4 separate regions of the Homo sapiens genome follow, and regions 1, 2 and 3 are each linked to region 4. The links come from fine-mapping of genetic effects on gene expression. A gene starts in region 4. Each other region holds a variant in brackets. All regions are shown on one strand. Distances are from middle to middle.

What was found.
Region 1: its variant is fine-mapped to the expression of ARHGAP12 in whole blood (TOPMed, PIP above 0.99).
Region 2: its variant is fine-mapped to the expression of ARHGAP12 in monocytes after R848 (Quach 2016, PIP 0.91).
Region 3: its variant is fine-mapped to the expression of ARHGAP12 in whole blood (GTEx, PIP 0.96).

Annotation. Positions count from the first base shown.
Region 1 is chr10:31,781,904-31,789,694 of GRCh38, reverse strand. No RefSeq gene overlaps it. Among named protein-coding and RNA genes, the nearest start is that of MACORIS, 78 kb to the right of the region's middle. The variant C/A (reference allele first, on the strand shown) is at 4,608.
Region 2 is chr10:31,970,415-31,978,205 of GRCh38, reverse strand. All of the region lies in intron 2 of LOC107984219 (a long non-coding RNA gene), which reads right to left. Among named protein-coding and RNA genes, the nearest start is that of ARHGAP12, 45 kb to the right of the region's middle. The variant ATGTGTG/G (reference allele first, on the strand shown) is at 3,698.
Region 3 is chr10:31,051,920-31,059,710 of GRCh38, reverse strand. The region is part of intron 1 of LOC105376481 (a long non-coding RNA gene); the gene reads right to left. Among named protein-coding and RNA genes, the nearest start is that of ZNF438, 24 kb to the right of the region's middle. The variant G/A (reference allele first, on the strand shown) is at 4,019.
Region 4 is chr10:31,925,169-31,932,959 of GRCh38, reverse strand. It overlaps ARHGAP12 (Rho GTPase activating protein 12), which reads left to right and starts at 4,129. Exons shown (of 20, transcript NM_018287.7): 1 at 4,129-4,277. LOC107984219 (a long non-coding RNA gene) reads right to left here. Exons shown (of 3, transcript XR_001747415.2): 1 at 4,917-7,791; 2 at 4,138-4,298. RefSeq lists a silencer at 3,958-4,457.

The DNA of each region.
Region 1 (7,791 bases), 140 kb after region 4:
GTAATGATCCAAAACCAAGATATGAAACTGTCATTTTTTTTTTTTTACAAAAAAACAACATATAATAAACTAATAGAATTAATGAATTTAGTAAGGTCAAGTGAGTACAAAAGCAATATAAAAATCAATTGTACTTTTTATGTCAGCAATAAACTGTTAGAAAATAAGACTTAAAAGTGATCTATTACCATAGCCTCAAAACACATCACATATGTAGAATTAAATGTAACGAAGATGTGCAAGGCCTTACACAGCAAACTACAAAACATTCTAGGGACAAGTTAAAGAAAACCGAAAGAAATGGAAAGGTATACCTTGCTCATATATTAGAAGTCTCCGTTCTCCACAACATTAATTTATAAATTCAATGCAATCCCAATTAAAACCCTGGTAGAGGCCGGGCACGGTGGCTCACGCCTGTAATCCCAGCACTTTGGGAGGCCGAGGCGGGCGGATCACGAGGTCAGGGGATGGAGACCATCTTGGCTAACACGGTGAAACCTCGTCTCTACTAAAAATACAAAAAATTAGCCGGGCAAGGTGGCGGGGGCCTGTAGTCCCAGCAACTCGGGAGGTTGAGGCAGGAGAATGGTGTGAACCCGGGAGGCACAGCTTGCAGTGAGCTGAGATAGCCCCACTGCACTGCCTGGGTGACAGAGCAAGACTCTGTCTCAAAAAAAAAAAAAAAAAAAAAACAAAACCCTGGCAGATTCGTTTCTGGAAATGGTCAAGGCTGATCCTAAAATGTGTATGGCATCAAAAAGAACTTAGAACAGTCAAAAGTATGTTGAAGGAGGGTAAAGTTTGAAAACTTCTATCAGATATCAAAACAGATATCAAAACTTACCCTAAAGAATGCTTGTCCAACCCACAGTCTACCAACTCCAAGCGGCCCAGGACGGCTTTGAATGCAGCCCGACAGAAATTTGCAAACTTTCTTAAAACATTATGAGATTTTTTGCTGTGATTTTTATTATTATTATTTTTTAGCTCATCAGCTATTGTTAGTGTTAGTGTATTTTATGTGTGGCCCAAGACAATTGTTCTTTCAATGTAGCCCAGGGAAGCCAAAAGATTGGATGCCCTGCTGTACAGCTACAGTAATTTAATATTAATATAAAGATACAGACAGAACAATTGAACAGAATAAAGACTAGAAAAACATCTAAACATATTACTAATTATCTAAACATATTACTGATTTTCAGTAATGAAAACCAGTTAACTACTGACACGTATTACCTATATGAATCTCACAAACAATGTTGAATGACAGACTGAAGACAGAGGTTATACATTCCATTTCAAAATTTCAAAAACAGCAATCAAGACCAGTGTCAAAAGTTAGCATAGTGATTACTTCTGAATACTGTTAGAAGATAAACTCAGATAACCAGGAGATTAATGAGAAAAACAATAAAAAATGGCAGTAAGCATTGAATCAAATTACTTATAGGAGGCCAAGACTAATATAGGGATTATGATTTGAAAATTGAATGTTGGAGTTGTAGACCTTGATAATAGAATAGATACATAACTATCTATATAGAGAGAGGCTGAGGTATGAGAATCGCTTGAACCTGGGAGGCGGAGGTTGCAGTGAGCCGAGATTGTGCCACTGCACTCCAGCCTGGGTGCCTCCAGCTAGAGTCTGTCTCAAAAAAAAAAAAAGTTATGAATAACTGTGCACCAGATAACAGAGCATCAGCATTCACAGAGAAGAGCTATAGGGGAAACAAGAAAAAATATAGAAAACACTGCATCTTAATTATTTAATTCATGTGTTTTAGTTCATTAAACATCGAGGACCAAAATTAAGTAAGACTAAAAAATACCTAAATATCATAATTGATAAGGTAGAAATATGTGTGTGTATGTCTGAACATAACAACTCATTGTTTTTTAAGTGGCAATGAAACATTCATACAATTTTTCCATAAGGCCTCAAAGAAGACTTCAGTGAATTCTCAATGGTAGTGAATATAGACATTCTCTGATCACAGTACACTAAAGTACAAAGCAGAAACCAGATCAGGAACAAAAATTCTACTGCTTTGATGTTAAAAACCTCTCAACTCAGCTCTTGAGTCAAAAAGGAAAATTTGGCCAGGCACGGTGGCTCACACCTGTAATCCTAGCACATTGGGAGGTGAGGAGAGAGGACCACTAGAGCCCAGGAGTTCAAGATCAGCCTGGGCAACATGGTGAGACCTAATCTCTGCAAGAAATTTAAAAATTAGCGAGAAGTGGTGGCATGCACTACAGTAGTCCCAGCTACTCCAGAGGCTGAAGCAGGAGGATCACTTGAGCCCAAGAATTTGAGGCTGCAGTGAGCTATGATCACACCATTGTACTGCAGCCTGGGTGACAGAGCAAGAGCCTCTCTTGAAAAAAAAAAAAAAAAGAAAAGAAAAGAAAGAAAAAAAAGAAAAGCTTGGCTGACATTACTGAATATATAAAAAAACAAATGATAAGAAAACTCTATCAGAACTTATGGGTGCTCAGAAGAAAAGGTATAGCCTTATTTATTAATAAATACATGACCTAACTTAAGAATATACTAAAAGAACATTAAAAATAAACCCAAGGTAAGTAAAATAAAATAATTTGTAAACATAAATTTGAACTTAATTAATTAGAACACAGAAAAATGGTCTAACTAATAAGTTGACTGGAGAGCTGGCTCTTTGAAGGAAAAAATTAACGAAATAGAAGGGATAAACTGTTACCTAACTTGTCTGGGTCAATGCAAAATGTAAATATTTTAGTGCTTCCTTATTATTATTTAATAAAATCTGTGATGTAATTATATAAACAGGCTTGAAAAGTTGCCTCTTGGGGTTATTTAATGTTCACTTTCTTATCTCTAGCAAAATTAACCAAAGTTGTGTAGCTAGATGGCATATTGTTTTAATGGTCTCTGGAAAAGTGGATACACATTCAGAGCCAATTCTAGTGGGCAAAAACACATATTCAAAAATTAAACTTTTAACTTTTAGGGTGGCTCATTGGCTGTAATCCCAGCATTTTGGGAGGTTGAGGCAGGAGGATCGCTTGAGGACAGCAGATTGAGACAAGCCTGGGCACCACAGTGAGACCCCTTCTCTACAGAAAATACAAAAATTAGCCAGGTGTGGTGCTGCATGCCTGTAATCCCAGCTATTCCAGAGTCTGAGGTGGGAGGATCGCTTGAGCCCAGGAGTTCAAGGCTGCAGTGAGCTATGATCACACCATGGGACTCCAGCCTGGGTGATAGAGCGAGACCCTGTCTCTAAAAAATAATAATAACGAACTTTTAAGATTTAATTTAGACTGGACATGGTGGCTAATGCCTGTATTCGCAGCTCTTTGGGAGGCCAAGGCGGAAGAATCACTTGAGACCAGGAGTTGAAGACTAGCCTGGGCAACACATTAAGACCCCTATTGCAGTGGCCTGTGCCTGTGGTCCCAGCTACACAAGAGGCTGAGGTTGAGGTTGAAGGATGGTTTGAGCCCAGGAACTCACAGCTGCAGTGATTGCATGACTGCACTCCAGCCTGGATGACACAGTGAGACCCAGTCTCAAAAAAAAGAAAAAAAAAGAAATTTAGTTATACTAGGTTTAAAAGTCAAAATGATATTAAAAGATATATAATACATGAGAAATTTCACTCCCACCCTGTTCTCATTCACTCCATGTCCCACTCCAGGTCACTATTTTATTCTTGTTATCACTTCAGTATTTATACAAATATAAGCAAACTGGTATTTTATTCCCGTCTTTTCTTTAAAAAATTTTATTTTGAAATGATTTCAAACTTATAGAAAAATTTCAAGAATAGTGCAAAGAACTCCCATATATCTTTCACCCTGTTCCAGCTGACCACTTAGTCATTCTCTCACTTCTCTCTTATATGTGCTATATGTTTTATGTTTCAGAATGTATTTCTTTCAAAAACATACTCAGTTGCATATCTGCAGACAATGATCAAAATCAGAAAACTTAACTTGATACACTACAATACTACTATGTAGAGTCTGAATTCAAACCAAATATTTCCAGAATTTCCCTTTTACTAATTTAATTTTTTAAGGCTCCAATTCAGGATCATGCATTGCGTTTTCGTGTCTTTTCAGTCTCTTTGAATATGTACAGTTTCTTTAGTCTTTTTTCTTCCCACTTTTTGGTCTTTCATGACTTGACTTTCTTGAAGAGTTCAGGTCATTTCTTTTGCAGAATATCCCGCAACCCAAGTTAGGCCTATCTGATAAGATTCAGGTGAAATGCAGATTGTATCTTCTCAGCCTAGCACATCAGAAGGTATATGATGTGAGATTTTCCCTTATTAGTGATATTAACCTCATGAATCAAGGAAATGGCATCAAACTAATACCATTGTATTCTTCACGTACTTGAAGAAAAAAAAAGGCAATTTCATTTAAAAATGTCAATAATGAAGCAATACATTTTTAGTTTTCTCAAATTTTTACTTGTGTGTTGAAATATGAAGTGCACATAAAACATTTCTTTTCTTTTCTTTTTTCTTTTTTTTTTTTTTTGAGACAGAGTCTTGCTCTGTCGCCCAGACTGGATGGAGTGCAGTGGCACAATCTCGGCTCACCATAAC[C/A]TTTGCTTCCCGGGTTCAAGCGATTTTCCTGCCTCAGCCTCCCGAGTAGCTGGGATTACAGGCGTGTGCCACCATGCCTGGCTAATTTTTGTATTTTTAGTAGACACGGGGTTTCATGGTATTGGTCAGGCTGGTCTCGAACTCCTGACCTCGTGATCCACCCACCTTAGCCTCCCAAAGTGCTAGGATTACAGGCATGAGCCACCATGCCTGGCCACATAAAACATTTTTACCGTAGTATGATGATTATCTCGAGGAAGTTACTTTTTTTTTGAGAGGGAGTCTTGCTCTGTCACCCAGGCTGGAATGCAGTGGTGTGATCTCAGCTCACTGCAGCCTCTGTCTCCCTGGCTCACACGATCCTCCTGCCTCAGCCTCCTGAATAGCTGGGACTACAGGAGTGTGCCACCATGCTCAGCTAATTTTTGTATTTTTTGTAGAGGCAGGGCTTGGCCATGTTGTCCAGACAGGTGTCGAACTCCTAAGCTCAAGCCATCCTCCTGCCTCGGCCTCCCAAAGTGCTGGGATTACAGGTGTGAGCCACCACACCTGGCCAGAAGTCACTTTTTGAGTCACAAACTGAACTAGCTACTTTTTCATGGAGGATCATTTTTTATTTGAAAGAATTACGGACAATCTCTGGTTACTCAGACTCCGATAACTGGCAGATGCTTTCTCAAAAACAAATGAAGTGATCCTGTCACCTTAAGGGAAAGGACCAGGAGTATTTGTTAATGGCAAAATTCAGGCTTTCAAGAGAAAACTAGAATTTTAAAAACTTGTATTCACCACAATGAGCTGACAGCTTCTCAGTATTCAAGGCTGGTTGGGATGAGATTACTGGAAATATTAACAAATCTGATTTTTAAAATGTTGTATAATGAGATATGTCAACCTTTGGAAGGTCAACACAATGTGGTGAACCAGTTCGTATTAAAGGAGAGCAATGCGCGCGTGATAGTATACATGATGGATAAAAAAGCCATTCAAATTGCAAGATAGAATGGTGGGTTATAATTTAATAAAGCATGAAAAGTTCATTGATATGGTTTCAGATTCCACTTGTCACATTTTATTGTTATGAAAAATATCTATAATTATCTAAAAAGGTTATTAAAATACTCCTCCCTTTTCCAGTTACATATATGTGTGAAGCTGGATTTTCCCCCGTATTCTTCAATCAAAGCAACAGCTTGAATGTGGAAACAGCTACGAGAATCTTGCTGTCTTCTATTAATGCAGATATTAAAGAAATTTACAAAGTGTATAAAGTAATATCTATATTTTGTTTTAAAAAACTAGTTTTCATAAAATATTTATATTAATGTGAAATAGGCTTATTTTCAATTAATACATTAAAAATATGTAAAAAACTTTAAAAATAGTTTTTCCATTTTAATTTCAAATATGGTAAATAGCAATAGATAAAATCTGCATAAACACAACTTTTGAAACCCTTCATAATTTTTAAGAGGGCAAAGTGTTCCTGAGACCAAAAAGTTTGAGTACTATTGGTCCATGATGTAAGTTGTTGATTTTTTTGCCAGTTTGTCATTTTTCTCTCGATTTTTTCTTTTTGTCATATAGTCATTTTTTATTTTTATATAGTTGAATTTATTATTCTTTTCTTTAAAAAAAGTGTCTGGATCTTGACCTGTGGTTAGATCTTCCCTCACTCCATGGATAAAAAGGAATTTACCTGTGTTTTCTTATGATTCCATGTTTCACTTTCTATGTTTCTAAATATATAAAATATCTGTCCTACCCAGTTATCCCAACTTAAAAGTCATCTTTGCCCCACCGGCTTGTGATGACACCTTTATCACATATTGAATTTCCATATGTTGGTTCATCTTAGTACTTCCTGTTTATACTATTGGTCTATAATTCATATGCTCATGTTATACCATTTATTGAGACTTCATGGAATATTTTGCTAGCTTGTAGAACTTGTCTTTCTCCCTCCCCCATTACTTATCCTTTCAATAACTTTCTTGACTTATTTGTTCATTTTTTCATGTGAATTTTGGATCACCTACAGATCAGTTTCTCCTACAGGTTTTAGTTCTCATCCAGGGTCATTGGTGCCTTAGCCCAGGCTTTGCTGCTGGCAATACAACCAATAGATAAGGCTTGTTACTTATGCTCAGGGCTACGGGAAGCTGTGGCATATACAGGGACATGCCCTGTTGGCTCCTGCCCAAGTGCTATGAGAAGCAGGATAGTGAACATTCTGCTTGTGTTTGATTTGTTTATATTCGGCAGCAGAGGGTCAACTGAGTGGAATACAGCATTGATTATTATCTGAATTCAATGCAACTAAATGTAAAAATTCCACAAGCCTGAATTCACAGCAATGGAACACTTATCAATTTCAACTTTTATTTTAGATTCAGGGTGTACACGTGCAGTTTTGTTACCTGCGTATATTGTGTAATGCTCAGGTTTGGGGTATGGATGATCCCATCACTCAGGTAGTGAGCATGGTACCTGATAGTTTTACCACCTTTTCGCTCCTCCTTCTTCCCGCCCTCCTCTTCTAGTCACCAGGGAAGCTACTTCTTGACATGGTTCCATGTTCTCTGACTTGACTGATGGTCTGACCATCAGACAGCTGCTCTCAGATCTGAGAGATACTTTGTCTCTGAGATGCCCCGGGGATGAATATGATATATAAATGCATAGTTATACTTTTTGAGAACTTGGAATAGTTAGGCGTTAGGTTCAGCTAAATTGTTTCCCTGACTCTGAGTGTGATGAGAAATGAAATATTGTTTAGTGAGTGTTATTGACAATAGCATAGAATGAAAAGGTAGAAAAATTCAGCAAGTGCTTTGTTTTCTGTGGACTGTATCCCTCACTACAGCTTTATTATTATTGATACTTCTATTATTATTACTGATTTTTCTCTGTGGTGGAATGAGCTAGGATTAAACTTATAAGGCCTTAGAAACTGCATTTTAGCCACTGCTGGCATTGATGTTGTTTTAATTATTATCTTTTTGCTTCTAAGGAACACCATCTTAAAACCGAAGCAACTGGACTCAGTGGTTCACACCTGTAATCCCAGCACTTTGGGAAACAGATGCGTGAGGATCGCTTGAGCCAAGGAGTTCAAGGCCATCCTGGGTGACACAGCATGACCCTGTCTCTATAAAAAACAAAAAATAAGCTAGGCGTGGTG
Region 2 (7,791 bases), 45 kb before region 4:
AGAAGAACTTAATGTCACTGTACCTACCCACCTTCAATAATTCATAAAAATAGTAAACAAGGATACTCATAGGGGAATGCCAATGTTTACACTCCTTCCTCCAAGAAGTGCCTTTTCCTGAACCATTGTTTCTTGTCTCTAAGCAACTTCCTCATGCATTGCACCAGTCTCCATCATACCATGATGATTCAATTTTTAAAACAGTCTTTTGTGTGGAGCTTTGTGAAAGGCTTTTTGCAAATCTAAATAGATGCCATTCATGAGCTTTTGTCCCTATGCATATGTGCCTCCTAAAAGAGCTTTAATAGGTGGATGATGCCAATTTCCTCTCATTGAAACCATACGTTCTCCTCCAGCTCCTTCCTTGACTCTGGCAGTCATATTGGCATGCAATTATCTTTTGGAGGAGTAGGGCTCACAGCCCTTCCCTGTTGATCTGCTTTGATTGGGTCTTTAATTGGGTCTAAATTGGGTGAGATATTGTAGAAGAATGCAGGGTTAAGATCGCCAAAATCTAACTACCCTAAAAGAGACTAATCACTATGGTTAAGATAGCATGCTGAGATCAGAAACAGGGAAATATGGACGTATGTGTGGTAAATATGGGCAGAGAAAAGGAAGTAAGGTTAGAAATACAGGAAGTTGGTGGTTGTCAGTCAAGGGTCAGGAACGTTTTAGGGTCATGCCCTTTAAGAATCTGACACTGTTCTCCATTTCCCTTTTCTTTAAATTCTCTCCTCCTTCGATTCCCTCAATGCTGTGCTCTCAACCTAGCTTGGTAGATGTTCCTGCTCAGACTCCTTTCCTGGAAGCTCTTCTTCCTGTCTCTTTAATGTGGTTTTTTTCCAGGTTCCATCCTTGGCTTTATCTTGTCTCCCTCTATAGGTTCTCCACTGTCAATTTCATACATTCCTATGGATTTAGGTAAACATAGATTAATAGAATAAAAATGGGAATTTGAGCTTTAGGTAAGTCCATTCATCTGCCTAGTGTAGATTTCCACACTGATATCCCAGACACTCCAATCTTAACATGTCCAAAAATCAAAGGCATCATCTTTATATAAGCTAAGGACTTCTTCATTTTATGTGACAAAAAACCCTTATTTCATGGGCTCTAAGGAGAAGCCAAATAGCACAGGGATAGAGCTAGATTCAGAAACAACTCGAACCAAGACCTGGAAATTGCAATGATTTATTTCTCTTTTTTTTTTTTTTTTTTTTTTTTTTGAGACAGAGTTGCTCTGTCATCCAGACTGGAGTGCAGTGGCATGATCTTGGCTCACTGCAACCTCCACCTCCTGGGTTCAAGGAATTCTCATGCCTCAGCCTCCTGAGTAGCTGGGACTACAGGAGGGCGCCCCCACACCTGGCTAATTTTTGTATTTTTAGTAGAAAAGGGGTTTTGCCGTGTTGGCCAGGCTGGTCTCAAACTCCTGACCACAAGCGACCCGCCCACCTCGAACTCCCAAGGTGCTGGGATTACCAGTGTGCACTGCCACGCCGGGCCCATTTCTCCAAATTATACATCAACTTTCCTCTGAATGTCTGTTTCTTTCTCCCTTTGTTGCAGATTGATGATTTCTGCTGCTCGGCCTATGTGGTGGAAAACACAAAGATCTCCATGTTTCTGCTTTAGTCACCCAGAGTGAGACTAGTTTGATTCTGGGTCCTAAAACTCACTGGCCCAGCCATGTTCAAGGTGTCCAGCCATGGATCAATCAACTTTGGCCTCAGATACAGTGTATGCAACTTGAAGTTGCTTCATAGCTCACTGATGCTTTGCCTTCAACCTTTTTTCACTGTTTCATTTTAGATAGTTTTTATTGCTACATATTCAACTATACTACTCATTTCTTCTGCATTGTCTAAACTCCTGTCAATCTCAATCCCATCCAGTGTATTTTTCTCTCCCTTTTTTTTTTTTTTTTAGAGACAAGGTCTCACTCTGTGGTCCAGGCTAGGGTGCAGTGGTACTTTCATAGCTTACTGCAGCCTCAAACTTCTGAGCTCAAGCAATCCTCCTGCTTCAGGCGTCTGACTAGCTGGGACTACAGGTGGGTGACACCACACCTGGCTAGTTCCTCGTATTTTTTGTGAAAACGGCATCTCACTATGTTGCCCAGGTTGGCCTTGAACTCCTGGCCTCAAGTGATTCTCCAGCCTTGGCCTCCCAATTTGCTGGGATTACAGTTATGATGCCTGGTCCCAGCATATTTTTCACTGTAGATATTGCATTTTTCATATCTAGATGTTCAATTTGCTCAGTCTTTTCTGTAGACTTTAAACATGGAATATAGTTATAATAACTGTTTTTAATGACTTTGTCTATTAATTCTTTGACTAATGTGCATGCATTTCTGGGTTGTTTCTATACATTGATTTTTCTCATTATTGATTGTATTTTCTTTGTTTGCAGCCTAGAAATTTTTTATTGGATGCTAGACACTGTGAATTTCACATCCTTAAGTGTTAGTCTTCTATTCCTGTAAACATTTTCTTGAGCTTTATTCTGGGAAGCAGTTAAATTGTTTGGAAACAGTTTAATCTTTTTGAAGCTTCTCCTAAGCTTTGCTAGGCAAGATGAAAGCAGCCTTTATTCTAGACCACAGAGGAAATGCTCTTTAGAGTACTCTACCTGATACCCTGTGAATTACAAGGTTTTTCATTCAAGGATTATTCCCTCTGCTCTGATCTCATGGTTCTTTCTTGAGTCTTGAGTAGTTTCTGCACGCTCATGCGTGGATTAGTACTCAGCTGAAAACCTGAGGGCCCCGATCTCTGGAGCTCTCTCTCTGTGCCGCAGTCTCCCCTCTGGAACTCTGCCCTGTGAACTCAAGATGCCATGGCCTGCCTGGGCCCCCAGGCTCCACCCACGTTTCCCCTCTCTAAATGCTCTCTCCATGCAATGAGCTCAGGTAATCACAGGCCTCACCTCATTTGTTTTCCCTCTCTCAGGAATCATTGTTCTCTGCTGCCTGGTGTGCAGTGTCTGAAATCTGTTGTTTTACGTATTTTGTTTGTTTTTTCTGTCCTTTCACATGGGAGGCTGAATCCAGTCCCTGTCACTCCACCTTGGCCAGAAGTGGAAGTCCAATTGTCTTCAGGAACTATTTGCAGTTATTTAAACTCTGGGCTCTTGCATGTCTCTGCACTTTTATGTCAGTTTGACGTTTTTCCCTTCCACCCTGTCTGCCTGGCAAGACTCAGTTCAAGCATTATCTCCTCCCAAACCTGCCCAGCACTCATCCCACGTCAGCATCCCCTCTCCATGCTCCCTGACATCATATCCACAGTGTGGAGCTTGGTTCCCCTCACTGAACTCTAAGGCCTGTGTGCAAAGATCATGGCTTATTTATCATTTTTAAAATTGAAAAATAATGATATACATTTTTATGGGATACATAGTGACGTTTCATACATATAACGTATGGCAACCAGTAAGGGTAATTAGCATATCCATCATCTGAAACATTTAGCATTTCTTCAGTGGTTTTGTTTTGTTTTTTTCAGACAGAGTCTTGCTCTGTCACCCAGGCTGGACTGCAGTGATGTGATCATGACTCACTGCAGCCTTGACCTCCTGGGCTCAAGCCATCTCCCACCTTAGCCCCCAGAGTAGCTGGGACTACAGGCATATGCCACCATGCTGGCTAATGTGTGTGAGTGTGTGTGTGTGTGTGTGTGTGTGTGTGTGT[ATGTGTG/G]TGTGTGTGGAGACAGGGTCTCCCTATATTGCCTAGGCTGGTCTCAAACTCCTGGGCTCAAGCCATCCTCCCTCGCTGGCCTCCCAAAGTGGGATTACAGGTGTGAGCCAACGTGCCTAGCCTATCTTTGTTTTCAGACAGAGTTTTGCCCTTGTCACCCAGGCTTCAGTGCAGTGGCACGATCCAGCTCACTGCAACCTCTGCCTCCCAGGTTCAAGCGATTCTCCTGCCTCAGCCTCCCGAGTAGCTGGGATTACAGGTGCCTGCCACCACATCCAGCTAATTTTTTGTATTTTGAGTAGAGACAGGGTTTCACCATGTTGGCCTTGCTGGTCTCGAACTCCTGACCTCAGGTGATCCACCTGCCTCGGCCTCCCAAAGTGCTGGGATTACAGGTGTGAGCCACCACGCCTGGTCCCTATCATTTTTTTATACTGGGAACATTTGACATCCTCCTTTTAGCTTTTGAGGTTTATTCATCTTTGATTTCTGAACCTAGCACAGCAACTGAAACAGTAGCTACCCATCATATCCTTGTTGAAATGAATTGTTTCTTATATTTCAGTGGACTATTTAAAGTGAAACATTGGGTTGGGCACTGTAGCTCACACCTGTAATCCCAGTGCTTTGGGAGGCCAAAGCAGGAGAATCACTTGAGCCCAGGAGTTTGAGGCTGCAGTGAGCTATGATTGTGCCACTGCACTCCAGCCTGGGCAACAGAGTGAAACCCAGTCTGAAACAAAACAAAACAAAATCAAGTGAAACACTGTATATAATTACCCCGAAACAGAGAATAATCTTCACTGTTTATTCCAGAGTATTTTATAAACTGTTACCTGCAAAAATGGGCTGGAACTTAAACACTTATGTATTCTCAAGTTCTGATATTGCATTTCTTTGAATCAAGTATGTCATTTAGCAAAATTTTCTGAGGCGATTCTCAACAAAGTGGTTGTGTTAGAAGTATGTATGTTTGTAGCCTTCCCTTTAGAAGGGTTCTGGATTTTGGGGGCATATTTCTATGTAGTTTGGTTTGGTTACTTATGAGAAGCATGAAATCTTTTCAAATATTTACAACTCATGCTGTGCAGAATGCAACTGCAAAGTGCCAAGCAAACAACCTCATGTAGTGAAACCCTTCCTTGACTCAATAGCCAGGTATGGTGGCACACGTCTGTAATCCCAGCTACTCAGGAGGCTGAGGCACAAGAATCACTTGAACCCAGGAGGTGGAGGTTGCAGTGGTTTGAGATTGCACCAGTGCACTCCAGCCTGGGTGACAGAGTGAGACTCTGTCTCACGAAAAAAAAAAAAACATACAAAGTCACACTGTAATCTCTAGCACGGCATTATATCACATGTAGGTTTAATAAACTGTTCAGGGGAAACAGATGCCAAACTTTGAGGCTGGGCATGGTGGCTCACACCTGTAATCCCAGCAATTTGGGAGTCCAAGGCAGGAGGATTTCTTGAAGCCAGGAGTTCCAGACCAGCCTGGGCAACATAGTGAAGACCCCGTCTCTAAAACAAAATACAAAAATTAGCCAGCATGGAAGTACATGCCTGTAGTCCCTGCTGCTCAGGAGTCTAAGGCGGGAGGATTGCTTAAGCCCAGTAGTTTGAGGCTGCGGTGAGCTATGATTACACCACCGAACTCTAGCCGGGTGACAAAGCAAGACCTCTGTGGAGTCCTAATTAGGGAAAAGGAATCAAGCTGGCAGGACCAGGGGAAAGCAAAAAGAAGCAGCAGATAAGCTATCAGTCTGCCTTTCTTCATGGTCCAGGACACGTAGCCCTCCTGTGCAAATAACTCACAATCTCCCTGCACCCAACTATCAGAAACCTGCAAGTTAGCTCACCGCAACCTTGGTGTTATCACTACTGCACAGAGCCTTCCTCAGCATACAGCATACGCACTATTCTATACTATCCCCAGCATGCCTTTGTCTCTTGGAAGTCATCGGCTCCTTTGGGCTGGCCTGCCTGTTGCTCTCTTGCCGTGTATTTTCATACTTTCTTTAATAAATTTGCCTTTCTTTACCTACAACTGTCTTGGTAAATAAATTTTTCGTAACACCCACACCACCAGCTCAGATAGTTGCTGCTCACCGGTGACAACCCCGCTTCAAAAAATAAAATAAAATCAACTTTTACATGAAATTTGCTAGGAATGAGACCTGTGAGACTCCATCATGGGTCCTTTGTGGACTATACATGCTCTTATGCTAACATGTTTCCCCTCTCACCACATCACTGGGACACTCTGTGTCTCGCCTCAGCCTCCCAAAGTGCTGGGATTACAGGTGTGAGCCACCACACCCAGCCTAAAAGTTTGACATCTGTTTTTCCTGAGCAGGTTATTAAACCTACGTGTGATATGATGTGGTGCTACAGATTTCAGTGGGACTTCATGGCTTTTTTTTTTTCTGTACTTAAACCTACTTGAGGCCTCAATGCTTTCTTTTTTTTAACCTGTATAAAAAACTGACATAAATAGGTAAATAGGGCATGTTAATTATAGAAAAAACATTGTGTGTGTGTGTGTGTGCACACATGAGTAAATGAGTAAATATCACTTGCAATTAAACCACTCAGAGTGTCATTATAGCCTTTCGGTGTGTATCTTTCCTGCTACATATATACACACACACACACACATGTTATGTAGCAGGTACAATATGGTATAGAATATGAACTCATGAATTGATTCATGAATATAATATGATTCATGAATTCATATTCTATACCATATTGTACCTGCTACTTTTTGTAATCTGCTTTCCCTCATCATATCTTTCTAAGTCAACTAATATCTTTTTTTTTTTTTTTGAGTATTTATTTATTTATTTATTTATTTATTTTTTTCTTTTTTTTTTTTATTTTTTATTTTTATTGATCATTCTTGGGTGTTTCTCGCAGAGGGGGATTTGGCAGGGTCATAGGACAATAGTGGAGGGAAGGTCAGCAGATAAACAAGTGAACAAAGGTCTCTGGTTTTCCTAGGCAGAGGACCCTGCGGCCTTCCGCAGCGTTTGTGTCCCTGGGTACTTAAGATTAGGGAGTGGTGATGACTCTCAACGAGCATGCTGCCCTCAAGCATCTGTTCAACAAAGCACATCTTGCACCGCCCTTAATCCATCTAACCCTGAGTGGACACAGCACATGTCTCAGAGAGCACAGGGTTGGGGATAAGGTCACAGATCAACAGGATCCCAAGGCAGAAGAATTTTTCTTAGTACAGAACAAAATGAAAAGTCTCCCATGTCTACTTCTATCCACACAGACCCAGCAACCATCCGATTTCTCAATTTTTTCCCCACCCTTCCCGCCTTTCTATTCCACAAAACCGCCATTGTCATCATGGCCCATCCCCAATGAGCCGCTGGGCACACCTCCCAGACGGGGTCGTGGCCGGGCAGAGGGGCTCCTCACTTCCCAGTAGGGGCGGCCCGGCAGAAGTGCCCCTCACCTCCCAGATGGGGCGGCTGGCCGGGCGGGGGGCTGACCCCCCCACCGCCCTCCCGGACGGGGCGGCTGGCCAGGCAGAGGGGCTCCTCACTTCCCAGTAGGGGCGGCCGGGCAGAGGCGCCCCTCACCTCCTGGATAGGGCGGCTGGCCGGGCGGGGGGCTGTTCCCCCCACCTCCCTCCCGGACGGGGCGGCTGGCCGGGCAGAGGGGTCCTCACTTCCCAGTAGGGGCGGCCGGGCAGAGGCGCCCCTCACCTCCCGGACGGGGCGGCTGGCCAGGCAGGGGGCTGATCCCCCCACCTCCCTCCCGGACGGGGCGGCTGGCCGGGCGGGGGGCTGACCCCCCCCACCTCCCTCCCGGACGGGGCGGCTGGCCGGGCAGAGGGGTCCTCACTTCCCAGTAGGGGCGGCCGGGCAGAGGCGCCCCTCACCTCCCGGACGGGGCGGCTGGCCAGGCAGGGGGCTGATCCCCCCACCTCCCTCCCGGACGGGGCGGCTGGCCGGGCGGGGGGCTGACCCCCCCCACCTCCCTCCCGGACGGGGCGGCTGGCCGGGCAGGGGGCTGACCCCCCCTCCCCCCTCCCGGACGGGGCGGCTGGCCGGGCGGGGGGCTGACCCCCC
Region 3 (7,791 bases), 870 kb after region 4:
TAAACATTGGGCAGCAAATTTACATTGAGAGACTAGAATACAACAGACACTCTGTGAGGGGCTTCACATATAAAATGCTCCAGGGCAGCATGGAGTACATAGTTGGTGGAAAATGCCAGGATCACAGGTTGTGCAGGGCGTCATGGGAGGATACAGGAAAGGCCACTCCATCTGAACCAGACTTCCTGGAGTAAATGACTCATTTGATCTGAGATTTGAAGGACAAGGAGAAATTAGCTTAGCTAACAAGTTGAGGAAAGGTGAATTTCAGGGAAGGAAAGCAGTACCTGAGAAGGCACACAAGCCTAAAGTTTGGCTGCAAGAAAACAATATATGTCATTTATCAAGCCTATCATGCTGCTTTGTTTTCATAGCCAGCAATGCAAAAATTGAGGAAAAAGTTTTCACAAGCATAGTCAATGAAAACTGGATGAGGACATGCAAAGCTTTCTCACTTATTTGGGGTTAAATAAGAACCCATTTTATCCAAAGCTTTTCCAAATTGTTTTCTGGAAGTTGCAATGAAATTAAATCTGATTCCCCAAATCTCCTTGTGGGGATCGTTTAGCAAATAAAAAATGTCTAAGTGAGTAACAATTTCCTTCCAAACTTCCAAATGAAATTTTTTGCTATAATGTCACAAAAATTATTACCTGAATTTATCTTGCAGGCAAATTAGATGATGTTTTACATTCTTTCCCCCATGAAATCACTTTCAAGAATTAAGTCAGAAAGAGAAGAGGCCAATTTTAGCAGCAATTTGCTCTTGCTGTAGCTGGATTTTGGTTAAAACTGCCTGAAGTAAACTTAATACACACTAATATCAGGATCCACCTCTTAAAATTTCAGGTTCCATGTACAAAATTCCAACTGAATCTGCCAAATATGCAAAGCCCCAGTGAAAGGTATTAGTTTTGACAGTGTGAAGTTATTGGTAGCTTAACACTCTGAAAATGAAGTACCTATATTCTTTGGCCAAATATCTTTCCTTGTGATAACTTGGAAACTTCAGGATAGAACATGAGAACTTTGCCATGAGCATTCAAGTTCTCACAAAGCAAGGCATGTATTCTAATACTTTCCATGGGATTGACAACCTTGATAATAATATGAACAATTCTCTTAGATTGCCAGGCAGGGTTTTGGATGCTTAGCAGTGAATACCTGATTTTTTTCCTGTCAAATTCCTCACTGTGAATTCCACATTATTGGAGCAATATTAAATGCACATTCTTATCAAGTTTTTAAAAAATTTAATTATTTTATTTTTTTAGAGGCATGGTCACTGTCTGTCACCCAGACTGGAGTGCAGAGATAACAATCATAGCTCACTACAGCCTCAACCTTCTGGGCTTAAGCAGTCCTCCCACTTCAGCCTCCCAGGTAGCTGGCACAAGTGGCATACATACAACACCATGCCTGGCTAATGTTTTTATTTTTTTTTGTAGGGACAGGGTCTTGCTATGTTGCCCAAGCTAGTCTCGAACTCTGGGCCTCAAGTTATCCTCCTGCCTCAGCCTCCCAACATGCTGAGATTACAGGCATGAGCCAGTACACCTGGTCCTGTTATCAATTTTTAATATCTCATTTGTTTGGAAGAATTTTGACAGAGCTTCAAAGATATTATCAGGTTTAGTTGTAGCACCAAAGGCTTGAGAAAACAGCTCCTTTTATTCTGCATCCTATTTAACCACAAGTCATGCAGAAACACATGGTGTAGCCCAAAGTTCTTGGGGGAAATCATAAGATGCATCAAACTAATGATAAGAAAATGCAGGCCGGGAGCGGTGGCTCATGCCTGTAATCCCAGCACTTTGGGAGGCCAAGGCAGGCAGATCACCTGAGGTCGAGAGATCGAGACCATCCTGGCCAACATGTGAAACCCCATCTCTACTAAAAAATACAAAAATTAGCTGGGCATGGTGGTGCATGCCTGTAGTCCTAGCTACTCGGGAGGCTGAGGCAGGAGAATCACTTGAACCTGGGAGGCAGGGGTAGCAGTGAGCCAAGATCACACCACTGCACTCCAGCCTGGCCACAGAGCGACACTTCATCTCAAAAAAAAAAAAAAAAAAAAAAAAAAAGAAATGCAATGATTTGATCTTTTGCAGAACTCAAAGTGTGATGTCAGCAGGTAAGACATTCTAACGTGTGACTGTAGATTAAAAGAAACATTCTGGAATAGCTTCTACATATCCACTCAAATAAACTTGTGGCAGCACTCAGAACACATAGTTCTTTGAAAATTTCTTCAGCATTGTGAAATTTTCTTCTCCAGTGATTAAAACGGCTAGTGATATGGTTTGGTTCTGTGTCCCAAATCTCATCTCAAGTCGTGATCCCCATGTGTTGGGGAAAAGGCCTGGTGGGAGGTGATTGGATTGTGTCCGGAATTGATGGGTTCTTGGTCTCACTGACTTCAAGGCTGAAGCCGCGGACCCTCACGGTGAGTGTTAGTTCTTAAAGACTGCATGTCCGGAGTTTGTTCCTTCTGATGTTCGGATGTGTTTAGAGTTTCTTCCTTCTGGTGGGTTCGTGGTCTCACTGGCTCAGGAGTGAAGCTGCGGACCTTCGCCGTGAGTGTTTCAGCTCTTAAGGCGGCGCGTCTGGAGTTGTTTATTCCTCCCGGTGGGTTCGTGGTCTCGCTGGCTTCAGGAGTGAAACTGCAGACTTTCGCGGTGAGCCTTACAGCTCATAAAGGCAGTGTGGACCCAAAGAATGAGCAGAATCAAGATTTATTGCAAAGAGCTAAAGAACAAAGCTTCCACAGTGTGGAAGGGGACCTGAACGGGTTGCCCTGCTGGCTTGAGCAGCCTGCGTTTGTTCTCGTGTCTGGCCCCACCCATATCCTGCTGATTGGTCCATTTTACAGAGAGTTGATTGGTCTGTTTTACAGAGAGCTGATCGGTCTGTTTTGACAGGGTGCTGATTGGTGTGTTTACAATCCCTGAGCTAGGCACAAAAGTTCTCCACCTCCCCACTAGATTAGCTAGATACAGAGTGTTGATTGGTATATTTACAAACCCTGAGCTAGACACAGAGTGCCGATTGGTGCATTTACAAACCTTGAGCTAGATACAGAGTGCCGATTGGTGCATTCACAATCCCTTAGCTAGACATAAAGATTCTCCAAGTCCCCACCAGATTAACTAGATACAGAGTGCCCACTGGTGCATTTACAAACCTTGAGCTAGATACAGAGTGCCGATTGGTGCATTCACAATCCCTTAGCTAGACATAAAGATTCTCCAAGTCCCCACCAGATTAGCTAGGTACAGAGTGTCGACTGGTGCATTCACAAACCCTGAGCTAGACACAGGGTGCTGATTGGTGTGTTCACAAACCTTGAGCTAGGCACAGAGTGCTGATTGGTGCACTCACAATCCCTTAGCTAGACAGAAAGGTTCTCCAAGTCCCCACTAGACTCAGGAACCCAGCTGGCTTCACCCAGTGGATCCTGCACCAGGGCCGCAGGTGGAGCTGCCCGCCAGTCCCGCCCTGTGCCCACACTCCTCAGCCCTTGGGCAGTTGATGGGACTGGGCGCTGTGGAGCAGGGGGCGGTGCTCGTTGGGGAGGCTCGGCCGCCCAGGAGCCCATGGCTGCACGGGGAGGCTCAGGCATGGCGGGCTGCAGGTCCCGAGCCCTGCCCGGCAGGGAGGCAGCTAAGGCCCGGGGAGAAATCAAGCACAGCGCCTGTGTGGCGGCACTGCTGGGGGACCTGGCGCACCCTCCGCAGCTGCTGGCCCAGGTGCTAAGCCCCTTACTACCTGGGGCAGGGGGGGCCGGCCAGCGGCTCCGAGTGAGGGGCTGCCAAGCCCACGCCCACCCAGAACTCTAGCTGGCCCCCAAGCAGGCAGGCATTGCCTGTTCCCGCCCACACCTCTCCCTCCACTCCTCCCCACAAGCTGAGGGAGCCAGCTCCAGCCTTGGCCAGACCAGAAAGGGGCTCCCACAGTGCAGCGGCGGGCTGAAGGGCTCCTTAAGTGTGGCCAGAGTGGGCACCAAGGCTGAGGAGGC[G/A]CCAAGAGTGAGTGAGGGCTGCGAGGGCTGCCAGCATGCTGTTACCTCTCGGGATCATGGGGGCAGATTCTTGCCTTGCTGTTCTTGTGATAGTGAATTAGTTCTCATGAGATCTGATGGTTTTAAAGTGTGAAACATCCCCCCTCACTCTGTCTCTCCTGCTGCCATGTAAGACGTGCCTTGCTTCCCCTTCACCTTCAGCCATGATTGTAAGTTTCCTGAGGCCTCCCTAGCCATGCAGAACTGTGAGTCAATTAAACTTTTCTTTATAAATTACCCAGTCTCAGATAGTTCTTTATAGCAGTGTGACAACAGACTAATACAGCTACTTTATACAAAATCTTTACAGCCATTACATCTTCTGCATATGTTCCCATATTAATATTATATATGCAGAGAATTGCACTCTATAATAATAAAGCCTACCCATATAAAAATAAGGTTTATGTAAATTGGATTTAAATGCATTAAAGCTAAGCGAGGGCTACATAGTTCCTTTGACTGGTGTTTTCTTCACATGAAACACACTGAGGAAGTTGAATCCCTGTTGCTTGCAATATACCTGGATCTAACTTTGATATATAAGTAAGTCTCATCAGATTTGTGTGTTTGGGCTGCCATCTTCAGCTGCCTTATAGAAGAAAAATATTAATGAGGGGTATTTTCAAGAATGCCAAGCTGGTTTTGAAGAGTAATTAGTGCTGCTAATGGCAGTTGCTACATGACTGCCTGGTTTCTTCTCATATCTGAACCTTATAAGCACATTATTTGTTCATTCTATGAGTACAAATATGTTACAGGTCTAAAATATGCCACCCATTAGAAACCCAAACGTCAATATCATGCAATATACCATGTAACAAACCTGCATATGTGCTCCTTGAATCTAAAATAAAAACTAAGTCTGGATACATTGGCTCACATTTGTAATCCCAACAATTTGGGAGGCAAAGAGCGAGGATCACTTGAAGCCAGGAGTTCCAGACCAACCTGGGCAACATAGCAAAATTCTCTCTCTACAACTTTTTTTTTTAACAAACAGCCAGGCATGGTGATGCATGCCTGTAGTCCCAGCTACTTGGGAGGCTTAGGTAAGAGGATTGCTTGCATCCAGGAATTTGAGGCTGCAGTGAACTATGATTGCACCACTGCATTCCAGCCTGGGTAACAGAATGAGGCCCTGTCTCAAAAAATAAAATAAAATAAAATAAAATAAAATAAAATAAAATAAAATAAAATAAAATAAAATAAAGTAAGATGCTACCTTCTAATAGAGACTTAGGCTAGGTTTAAAATATTTTTTATGATTCTCTGATTTTTGTTGTTGTTGTTTATTCAGATGGAGTCTCGCTCTGTCACCCAGGCTGGAGTGCAATGGCACGATCTCAGCTTACTGCAACCTCCACCTCCCAGGTTCAAACAGTTCTTTCGCCTCAGTCTCCCCAGTAGCTGGGATTACAGCCACCCGCCATCATGCCAGACTAATTTTTGTATTTTTGTAGAGACGGGGTTTCATCATGTTGGCCAGACTGGTCTTGAACTCCTGACCTCAGGTGATCAGCCCGTCTCAGCCTCCCAAAGTGTGATTTTTAAATTTACTGTTGGACTGAACTCCATTGTTAAACAATATAAAGATACATAAAGAAAAAAGAATCATTCCCCCAGCCTCTCTACAAACTAATCCCTCTGATGTAAATCAAGTTATCCATCTACCCTATTCTTCATGTACCTATAAATGTATTCATACTTACATTAACATACACACAAACATGCAATGTTTTTATCTTATAAAATAAAATGGTATTATATTGCACATTTTCTTGCAACTTGCTTTATCACTTAACAGTTTCTCATAGATGATCTAGCTGGTCCATAGATGGATATATAACTCATTTTCATTTTAAAGAACACCATAAACTAAGATTCTGATTTAATTTGCATTAAAATAGAGAAGTTTTTTATCATACTATATTTCCATCCAGTAACATGGCATAAGTTTTCATCTATTAAGGTTTACTTTATATTCTTCAAGAAAAAAGATTTGCATATAGACACTGTAATTTTTTATTAAATTTTTTTAGAGTTTTTTTTCTTGGCTGTTGGGAAGAGGGCTTTATTTTCCATTTATATTTAACTACTTTTTGTGAGTATGGTAAATTATATTATTTGTCATTAACTACTCCCTCCTTGGTTAGAGGACTATACATTCATGCATGTTGGGTATAATTTACAATACCTTCAGAGATGAAGCATGCTTCCTCCCCCAATTTGGGCTGGCCATGGGATTTGTTTTGGCCAATGAATGTGAGTGGATGTGACACAAGTACATCCAAACAGAAACTTTAAATCAGCTCTGTGATTTCTTTTGGCCTCTTGAGCTTCTGCTCCATGACATGGAAATGTCCAGGTAGGGGCTACTTCTTCAGTCTAGATCCCAGAATGAGACAGCTTGTGAAGCAGACCTCCTACTGACCTCCTACACAGCATGAAGCAGTGTAGCAGCCAACTGTGAAGAACTGGGAAGGGTCTCATATTTCGCCTTACTTTCAAGCCAACATGTTAACTTGCCAGTTTCATGGATGCTGAATGAAGACACTTGGGTTAGAGACAAAACACTTGATTACAGCAAAAGCAGTAGTCAGAATGTCAGCATGTCTGTTTTGGTTCCCTGAGTCTTCATTTTCAGTGATGATGTGAATAGGCCCAGATGGATGCCTGAACAAATGCTGGGTTGCGCTACAGGAAAGGAATATAGAACTTAAATTCCCATGATTTCATAGCAAGTAGTGAGCAAGCCAGCTCTTTGTCCCAGAGGTAAAAATCACCTCCTCCCTCGAGGTTGCTTGTTGTAAACATAACCCTGAGAAAAGGCTGGGTAGGAAATGATTAGGCCCTTGCATGCTTAGCACACCCAGCAAGATGTGTAGGAAAAAGAGTAACATATGGAGGAGAGTTTCCCAACACCAACCATCAGCCCTCATGTAAAGTTAGTGAGAAATAAACGTTTGCTCTTGTAAGCCACTGTGGTATGATTGTTTTGATACACAACAAAGTTGTAGCTAGTACAAATTACATTATATTTGTATATTTATCTTATATCTTGCCACCTTACCTAATTCTCTTATTTTAAAACATGTTCTAATACAGTTTTGTGGGTTTTCTAGGTATAATAATGTCTTTGCAAATAAAATGAATTGCCCCCTTTCCCAAGCATTTATATTATTATGGTTTATTTTGGGTTTTTTAAACCTTCCGGGTTAGCCTAAATCCCAAAACTATTTTGAATAAAACGATGATAGTAAATATGCCATTTATTAAGTTATTGTGTCTTACTTCCAAAGCCAGCCTTTGTTACTGGGCTGGTAATGCCTGGGCTAGAACTTCAAACCTTATTTTTGCTTTGCAAGTTGGCTCCCATTAAACTGTGCTGATAGAGGTGCTTCACGGAGCTCACAGGCTGAAGGAGGAGGAAGAGGCTTGTTCCTTCCTGCATGTTTTTTTGGGGGCTCCCTATTTGCCTCTTTTTCATATGAGTGGCATCCCACCAATGCTTCTTCATCTTGGCAGCAGCAGTTCCTTCCTGTAGCAACAAGTGAACCCAACTGACAGTATTTCTAAATGCCGTATCTCCCCCGGAGATACTATCAGCACTTTCTACTCAGAAGTCTGAGCTTCATTTCCAAGACAGCCCTTCTCCAAGCTCCTAAGCTTTAATAAATCCAACCTCTTTTCTTGATCCCACCCAATCACAGAGCAGTAGCAGTTTTCTGCAG
Region 4 (7,791 bases):
CTTGCAGAAAATTTAATTTTTGGAGCTGGTGCTATGTGCCCTGAGTGATTTTTCCCCCCACTCCTGGACTCTTTGAGTTAGTTGGGTATGACAAGAATGTCCTAATTTGTATAATCAACTATTACAAGTACTAATTATTATTATTATTTTTTGAAACAGGGTCTCCCTCTGTTACCCAGGCTGGAGTGCAATGGCACCATCTTGGCTCACTGCAACCTCTGCCTCTCGGGTTCAAGCAATCCTCCTGCCTCAGCCTCCTGAGTAGCTGGGACTACAGGCGTGCACCACTATGTCCAGCTAATTTTTTGTATTTTTAGTACAGATGGGGTTTCACCATGTTGGCCAGACTGGTCTTGAACTCCTGACCTCAGGTGACCCACTTGCCTAAGCCTCCCAAAGTGCTGGGATTGCAGGTGTGAGTCACCACACCTGACCACAAGTACTAATATTTGTCTTTAATAATAGTTAAAACTGATCATATGAATTTATATAGTGAAAGCAGTGAGATTTCACAAGAAAATATTAATAAATCTCCTAAAACCCTTAAAGATGTGTTATGCAAATCTGACTGCTATTGTACTCATTATTCTCTTTGAGATTTCTGGAAATTAAGCCCACAAATAAATATAATCAAATACTGAAACATATCAGACAAAATCATTTACAGGGCATCTGTGTAACCCATGGAAACAAGAAGCAGTTGATATTACAAAATGGGTGAGTGAACAGATACACGAGAAACATATGCCTTTAGCGTTTTTCCCAAAATATATTTTGTTGACCTTAATTAACAGACAAATGATCCATGAAATTCTAATTTTATTGTTTAAAATGGAGGATCCAATTTGTTAAAACTTGTTCAAGGAAGGCTCTACTAAACTTGAAGAAAAATAGAGTACTTCTGAAAATTTATATACATTTGATAAAATGTATACTAAGCCTCAAAATAAATGTACCTGGATTTTAAATTATTACGGTAAGAAACAGACATCATTCAATCTGAACAAAAACTCTGAGGTTTTCAAAAGTTTGCCTATGAGCACTAGCTTACCTGATTTTATTTATTTATTTATTTATTTATTTATTTGAGACATGGTCTCACTCTGTTACTCAGGCTGGAGTGCAGTGTCACAATCTTGACTAACTGCAACCTCCACCTCCTGGGTTGAAGTGATCCTCCTACTTCAGCCTCTGGAGTAGCTGAGACCACAGGCACACACCACCATGCCTGGCTATTTTTTTTTTTTTGTATTTTCATTAGAGATGGGGTCTTGCCATGTTGCCCAGGTTGGTCTTGAATTCCTGAGCTCAAGCAATCTGCCCGCCTCAGCCTCCCAAAGTGCTGGGATTATAGGCATGAGCCACTGCACCCAGCCTCCTTGATATGTTTATTTTACTCAGGTAAACTTTTATAAAACAGAAGAAGCCTGAATGTTTTAATAACAACAACAACAACAAAAAGATGCCAGAAAAATTTTAAACATTTTCACTATTTGAATAGATAAAACATTCTGAAATTTTGAATATCAAAAAGTTTAAATATGAATACAATGAAGTCTATTTCTTATGCTTTCCATCTACTGTGTTCTCATACCTCATGTTACTTTGTCCTAGTTTAATGCATATACAATTTAATACAATATTCTGTACCGTATTTCTGTGTTTTTCACTTAACAAAAAAATCTTGGAGATCTTAATGTTAAAACAAAGAACTTTCTGTTTTTTTGATTAACAGCTGCACAATGTTCAAACATATGGCTCTATCATAATTTAACTAGTATCCTGTTGATAGATACTTAGCTTGTTTCCAATCTTTTGCTATTCTCAACAATAAGAAACACCTTGTTATTTCTTATGTGTGGAAACATCTGTGGCATAAATCCCTGGAAATGAAATTCAAGGCTCCGAGTATATATGCATTTGTAATTTTAATACATACTGCCAAATTCCTGTTTCTTTATAGCCCAGCCAAAGTAGTGATGCCAGATATAATTTTGTTTTTTCATTTAAAAATATATAATGAAAAGTAGGTTACTTATTAAAGAACTAGGAAGAAAGTAGGACAAGTTTATGCAAAGTACAGACTACATTTTCACCTAAAAATACATTTAACAGGAATCTATTGTGCATCTACCGTATGCCAAGTGCTTTTAGGCACTTGGGATATACACACAAACAAATCAGACTCAAATCTCTGCCTGTGTGTGGAGCTTATATTTCAGTTCTACATTTTGGAACTCTCTGCTACTTCATAAGAAGCCAGTTAAATGTCAAAATCCTGAAAATGATCTGTTGAAATCCTGAGCACAGGCGCCAGACATATGCTACAAGTGTTATTTAAAAACTAACTAGAGGCAGTGTTACATATGATCATAGCTCTCCATCAGGTTCTTTTAAAACAACACACTAGCGAGAAAGCTCTTTTTATCCGCCTCCATCTGCTGTTGGTGGTGATCAGCATACTGTGGGCATTGTGGTATCATCCGAGATTAGGCTGTGAAATAGGAAGTGGGGTTACAGGCAGATCCGCAAGTGTATGCAAACTGTTGAGTTCTATCTCTTGCTAAAACCAAGGGTGCCCAATTCAGGTTTGGAGAGTAGGGAAAGTAAGGTTATCAGCGCATTCCTATCAGGGTCGTTTTCTTTTTTGCACTGCTCTTGTTCTGGTTTTATAAGGAGAACACAAGCAGAGTCTATGGAAAATAGTTGCCAAAGCATACAGGAAATACTCCTTATACTGAACAAATGCAAGAAAACAGAACGGGTTAGAAACCGAGGGAGACAAAAAGGCAGTGGGTGCCAAGGACTGTGAAAAGCAAATGCAACGATAGAGACAGCACAGTCTCAGGCTTATTTTTCAAAAATTCTCATTGTAAGCCTCTTTCCTTTCTAAATGGAGACTATCTTAACACTTTAGCTCGCATTAGACTTAATTTAATAAGAAGGTTGTAAACCACAGCTGTTAAAGTCTTGCCACTGCCCTACCGGATTCTTCGCATCCTGTAAGGCACAATTCGGAGTTCAGCTGGTTGATAAGGAAGCCAGGCATTGTGGCATCTTCAAGTACGAAGTGAAGCACAGGAAAGAGCCAACTCCGGAGAGTAGCTCTTCATTGCTTGAATCATACATATGCTTGTTTTTTCCCCCCTCTCCTTTCTGGTCTCTATTATTAACAAATATTTCATCCTGGCACAACAGGCACAATCAACAACTGGTTAAGGAATGAGTAGTTACTGAAGTCCCAACGCCTCTCAGTTATTTTTCTCACACTCACTGTATTCTAGACCTAGAAGCCAGCTCTCATTTGAAAGCTGAGGTTCAGAAGGGTGAAGTGCCAATAAATGGCAGAAGCCAGGTCTCTTTCCTGATTCCCATTCCAGCTGAGCTCCTCCTGCCACTGGATCACCATCAAAGACCTGCCAAAGCTGTTACTTCCGGGTTCGGTGCTGCCACAGTGCAAACGGGGATGACTTTGGACAATGACCCTGTGGCCCCCGCAGGGCTCGCACCCTCAGGCCCGTGGAAGGCTAAATGCTGACGGACTGGTTCTGCCCTGGAGCGGCTCTCCGCGTCCCAGGGGTCTCCTCAGTCCCGAGTGTGCACAGCGGGTCCTGCCACGTACCCTGGCGACCCCAGCAATGGACTCAGTGCCCCGGGTCCCTTTCCGTCTCCCTCAGGCGGCGTGCAGCACTTTTTCGGGTGTCCCAGTGGAATTTCCGGGCCCGTGAACGACTGACCCACGCCCGGCCGCAGCTCCAGGGGCCGACGAAGGGAGCGCTAGGGCCCACGGCAGGGCCGTCTTTGCCCGGGCTCCATTCCTGCCACCCTGGCGCTATGTCCGCCCTTCCCTGGTTTTCCCTACGAGCGTTTTTTTAACGCTTCCCACTCCTTGTTTACAAAGTGCTGAGCCCCCTTGACCGCAGGCTCCCGCGCCGGCCCGAGTTCCCACACCGTACGCTGGCTGCCCCCTATTCGGATCCCCGCCGGGCGCCGCACCCCCTAGCCACCCCAGACCGTCCCGGAGACCCGCGCCCGCCCAGCTCGCCCGGGCCATCACGTGAGCCTCCCGCCCCGCCCCCGCGCGTCACGTGAGCCCCGCCCCCGCGCCGGCGCGCTCCGACGTGCCCTGTAACTTACCCTCCCTCAGAGGCCAGCCTGCGGGGACGGGCCGGCCGCGGCCGTAGCCGTGTGAACGCTCTTCGGGCTCGCGTCGTCGACCCGCAGCCGCGGGGCGGACTAAGAAGGGAGCCGCCTGCTGCGAGGCCGCCGGGCTCCCGGTGAGGTGCAGGGCGCGGGTCCTGGCGGACGGAGGGCAGGTTGGCGAGGCGCTGCACAAAGGCGCGCCGGGGCCGGGCTGTGCCCGCCGAGGGCGGTGGAGTCGGGGGGAGGCGTGTGCGGGAGGCGCGGCGGCGGCGGCGGCGGCGCCGCGGAGGTGCGCGCAAAGGGAGGTCGGGCGCGCAGCGAGGGGCTCTGGGCGCGGGGGTTAGGCGCCGAGGGGGAGGGGGCCGGCGCAGCCTATTGGCTGACGTGGGCGAGAGGGTTTAAATGGCCCGAAGTTGTGGCTTCTCTGCCCCCTGGGTTTCCTGACTTCCTGTGTGAGGGCAGCGCCCGCCCGCCCCGCCCCCAGGGAGGAGAGTGTGAGGGTGCGCGGGTGTGTGTGTGAGTGCGGGAGAGTGCGCGCGTGTGTGCACAAGGCGGGTGTGTGCGTGTCTATGTGCAAAAGGCGGGTGTGTGCGCGCGCGTGTGTCTGCAAAAGGCGGGTGTGTGTGTGTGTGTGTGTGTGTGCGCAAAAGGCCGGCCCGGCCCCTCCCGCGCCCTGGGCCCACTCCCTAATCGCGGTGGGGCTTGCAGGCCTCCACCCACCCGGGGAGCCCACCCGGGGAATCCACCTGGGGCGTCCCTCGAGGACTGTTGACCTTAAACCGGACACTTTCTTCTTTGCGGTCTTTCCCGGTGCCCTGCCCCTGCTGGATGGACGTGCATTCGCTCCCCTCCAGCTTATCTGGGCGGAATCTCCTCAAAGTCCTTGAATTGAAAAATCCTCTTTACCAGCGTGCAGCCCGCCTCCCATCTCAGGGGAGCTGGTTGTCTTCTCAGAACGGCTGTCCTTTACGCGTTGCTATCTTAAGTGACTGCAGACCCTTTGAGAAGAAATGGCCACACGGTCTTCGTTAGAGAAAAAGGCACGCCCTTCAGCTTTCGAGGCGTGTGATGTTTTCCTTTTGACTGCAGCTGCAGTTTTGTAAATGTATTTTCAAAGGCTAAAGCACGACGTTGAAAGTACACCTTTATCGAAAGTTTTAATGTCATCCCAAGTGGAGTGTTTGTTGTGGATAGAGGCTTTTAGCACTCTAATAACACGATTGGTTGTGGCTGGCTTTTGGGTTAATCATGACATTGAGAAGTAGATTTTATCGACTATTTAGGCATGCGTTCCTAAAGGGAGGTGGTGGAGGAAGGAAGGCTCACTCGGGTTCTGATTCAGGTTCTGCCACCCGACTTCTAGAGGTTAGACCTTGGGAGACTCCGGGTGTTTCAATGGAAGTGTTAAAAATAAGTATCTAGCCCCTAGCCACGCCTCTTTCATACTTAAAAGTCGGGAACGATGGCCTAGATGTGTGTGTACTTGCCCATATCGCCTTTTCTTTATCTGTAGGAGGGTGTTTTACAGAATCGGTCATCTTCCTCTACCTCCTCTGGTCTGAATAGGCATTTTGGCTATTTTTATTTTGCCTTGGAAACGTTTCAGAGCTGGGTTTTGAGAGCCCAAAGCAGGCAGTGAAAGCGTGACCCCCACCCATGCCACCTGACGAGCCAGACCGTCTGCGCACATATGTGCGACCCCTGGTTGCATGCGGCTCCACTGTTCTAAAAGTGTTTCTCTGTGGGGGAAAAAGAAACCCCAGAAGTGTAATATAATGTGTGTATGTATATTTATGCGCCAATATTTGTTGATAGATTTCTGTTCGTACTTCATCAAGCTGGAGAAGACTGATGACTCATTGATTGTTAAGATAATGCCGTCTGTATAGTTAGTTATATATATATTAGTTGTTCATATATAATTATCAATACATTGCATCTCTTTCGGTTTTATATTTGCTAATACCAGTTGTTTCGAGGTGCAAATGAAAATAGATTAAGTGCTGTAGAAAAACAGCATGTTACTTGTAGTTAATCATTTGACTTTTCTTTAATTAGAAAGAATCTGCTCAGTGGTTTTTTAGTAGGCTGATAGAAAGTGAACTTTACAAATTTTTAAGTACTCTACGTAAGTGATATTACTGAAAATAATACGGGTGATTAAAATTTTTAAATGGAGTAAAAACTAAATAGTGGTGATCTGTTTAACCATTAAACAGTAGTACTAATATTTTACTTACCTGAGAAAATGGGCATCACAGTTTTACAATAAATCATGGGAGAGAAAAGTGAAATTAAACTTTTGTCCTGTATTTAACAATTTTGGCTAGAATTGCAAATATGCACTATTTTGTAGTATGAATCAGATGTGAAAGGTGTCGTAGTACGACATAGCATCACTGTACTTCAAATCGGGCTTTTCAGATTACCTCTTTTGAGGAACCTATTGGGCCACTATCCTTGTGGTTTTTTTTTTTTTTCTTCAGTTAGCTGGCCCCGGCTCATTGGTATATGGCTTTGCTGTGATTCAGCCATTTCCCTATTACTTTCATTGACTTCATGGACTTAATGAATATTCTGCAGTTTCGTTTTGTAATTGATTAGCTCTTTAATTGAACTGAACTGCCAAATGGTGTAGTCTCTAAGCCTCCTTCCCCTGTTGATAATCTAGTGCTTCTCAAATTTTAACGTGCATAGGAATCACCTGCACTTCTAATATCCACTTGGTCATATGGATGCTGTTCTGCCAGACCACAGACCACTGCTGTCCAATAGAAATGTAATGCCTATATAAATTACTTGTGCTTAAAGTTTCTAGTATTCACATTATAAAAAGTAAGCACGTGGAAAAAAAGTGAAATAAATGAATATATTTTACTTAGTATATTCACAATATCATTTTAACATGTAATAGGAAAATTATTAATGAGATATTTTATGTTCTTTACATTGGACCAGGTTTTTTGAAATATCAAGTGTGTTTTACACTTAGAGCATTTCTCAATTTGCATTAGGCACATTTGACTAGTGACTGCTGTATCGAACAACAGTTTTGGAGTCTAAAAGTGTAGACCAATGTTACTCTTAGTGTATTTTCAGATTGGCCTCATCAGCAATCCTTGAGAATGTAAATTTTAGGGCCCCACCTCATACCGGTTGTTGTTAGAATATCTAGGGCTAGAGCCTGTAATCTGTGGTTTGAAAACGCTCTGGGATATGGCTATACAATGTATATGTGGTATTCTGGATGGGACCCTGGAACAGAAAAAGGACATTAGGAGAATACTAAGGAAATCTGAATGAAGTGTGGAAATTGTTATGTGTCAGTGTTGGTTGATTGAATATGACAAATGTACCATACTAACATAAGTTGTTAATAGGGATAACTGGGTCCAGAGTACATGGGAACTCTGTGGACTATCTTTGCAGTAATTATGTAAATCTAAAACTCTTTTAAAATAAGAAGTTTATTTTTAGAAAAGTTCTTCAGATTATTCCATTGCTCACTAAAAGTTTGAGAATCCAGTGATCTAGATTATTAATCACTTGTACTGCTACAGCTTGTTTGGGCAGGATGGTGGCCAGTATTGGGTCTGGTAGGATGATGATAATAGTTTTTTTGTAGTAAGACCTAAAACTTTTAAAGCA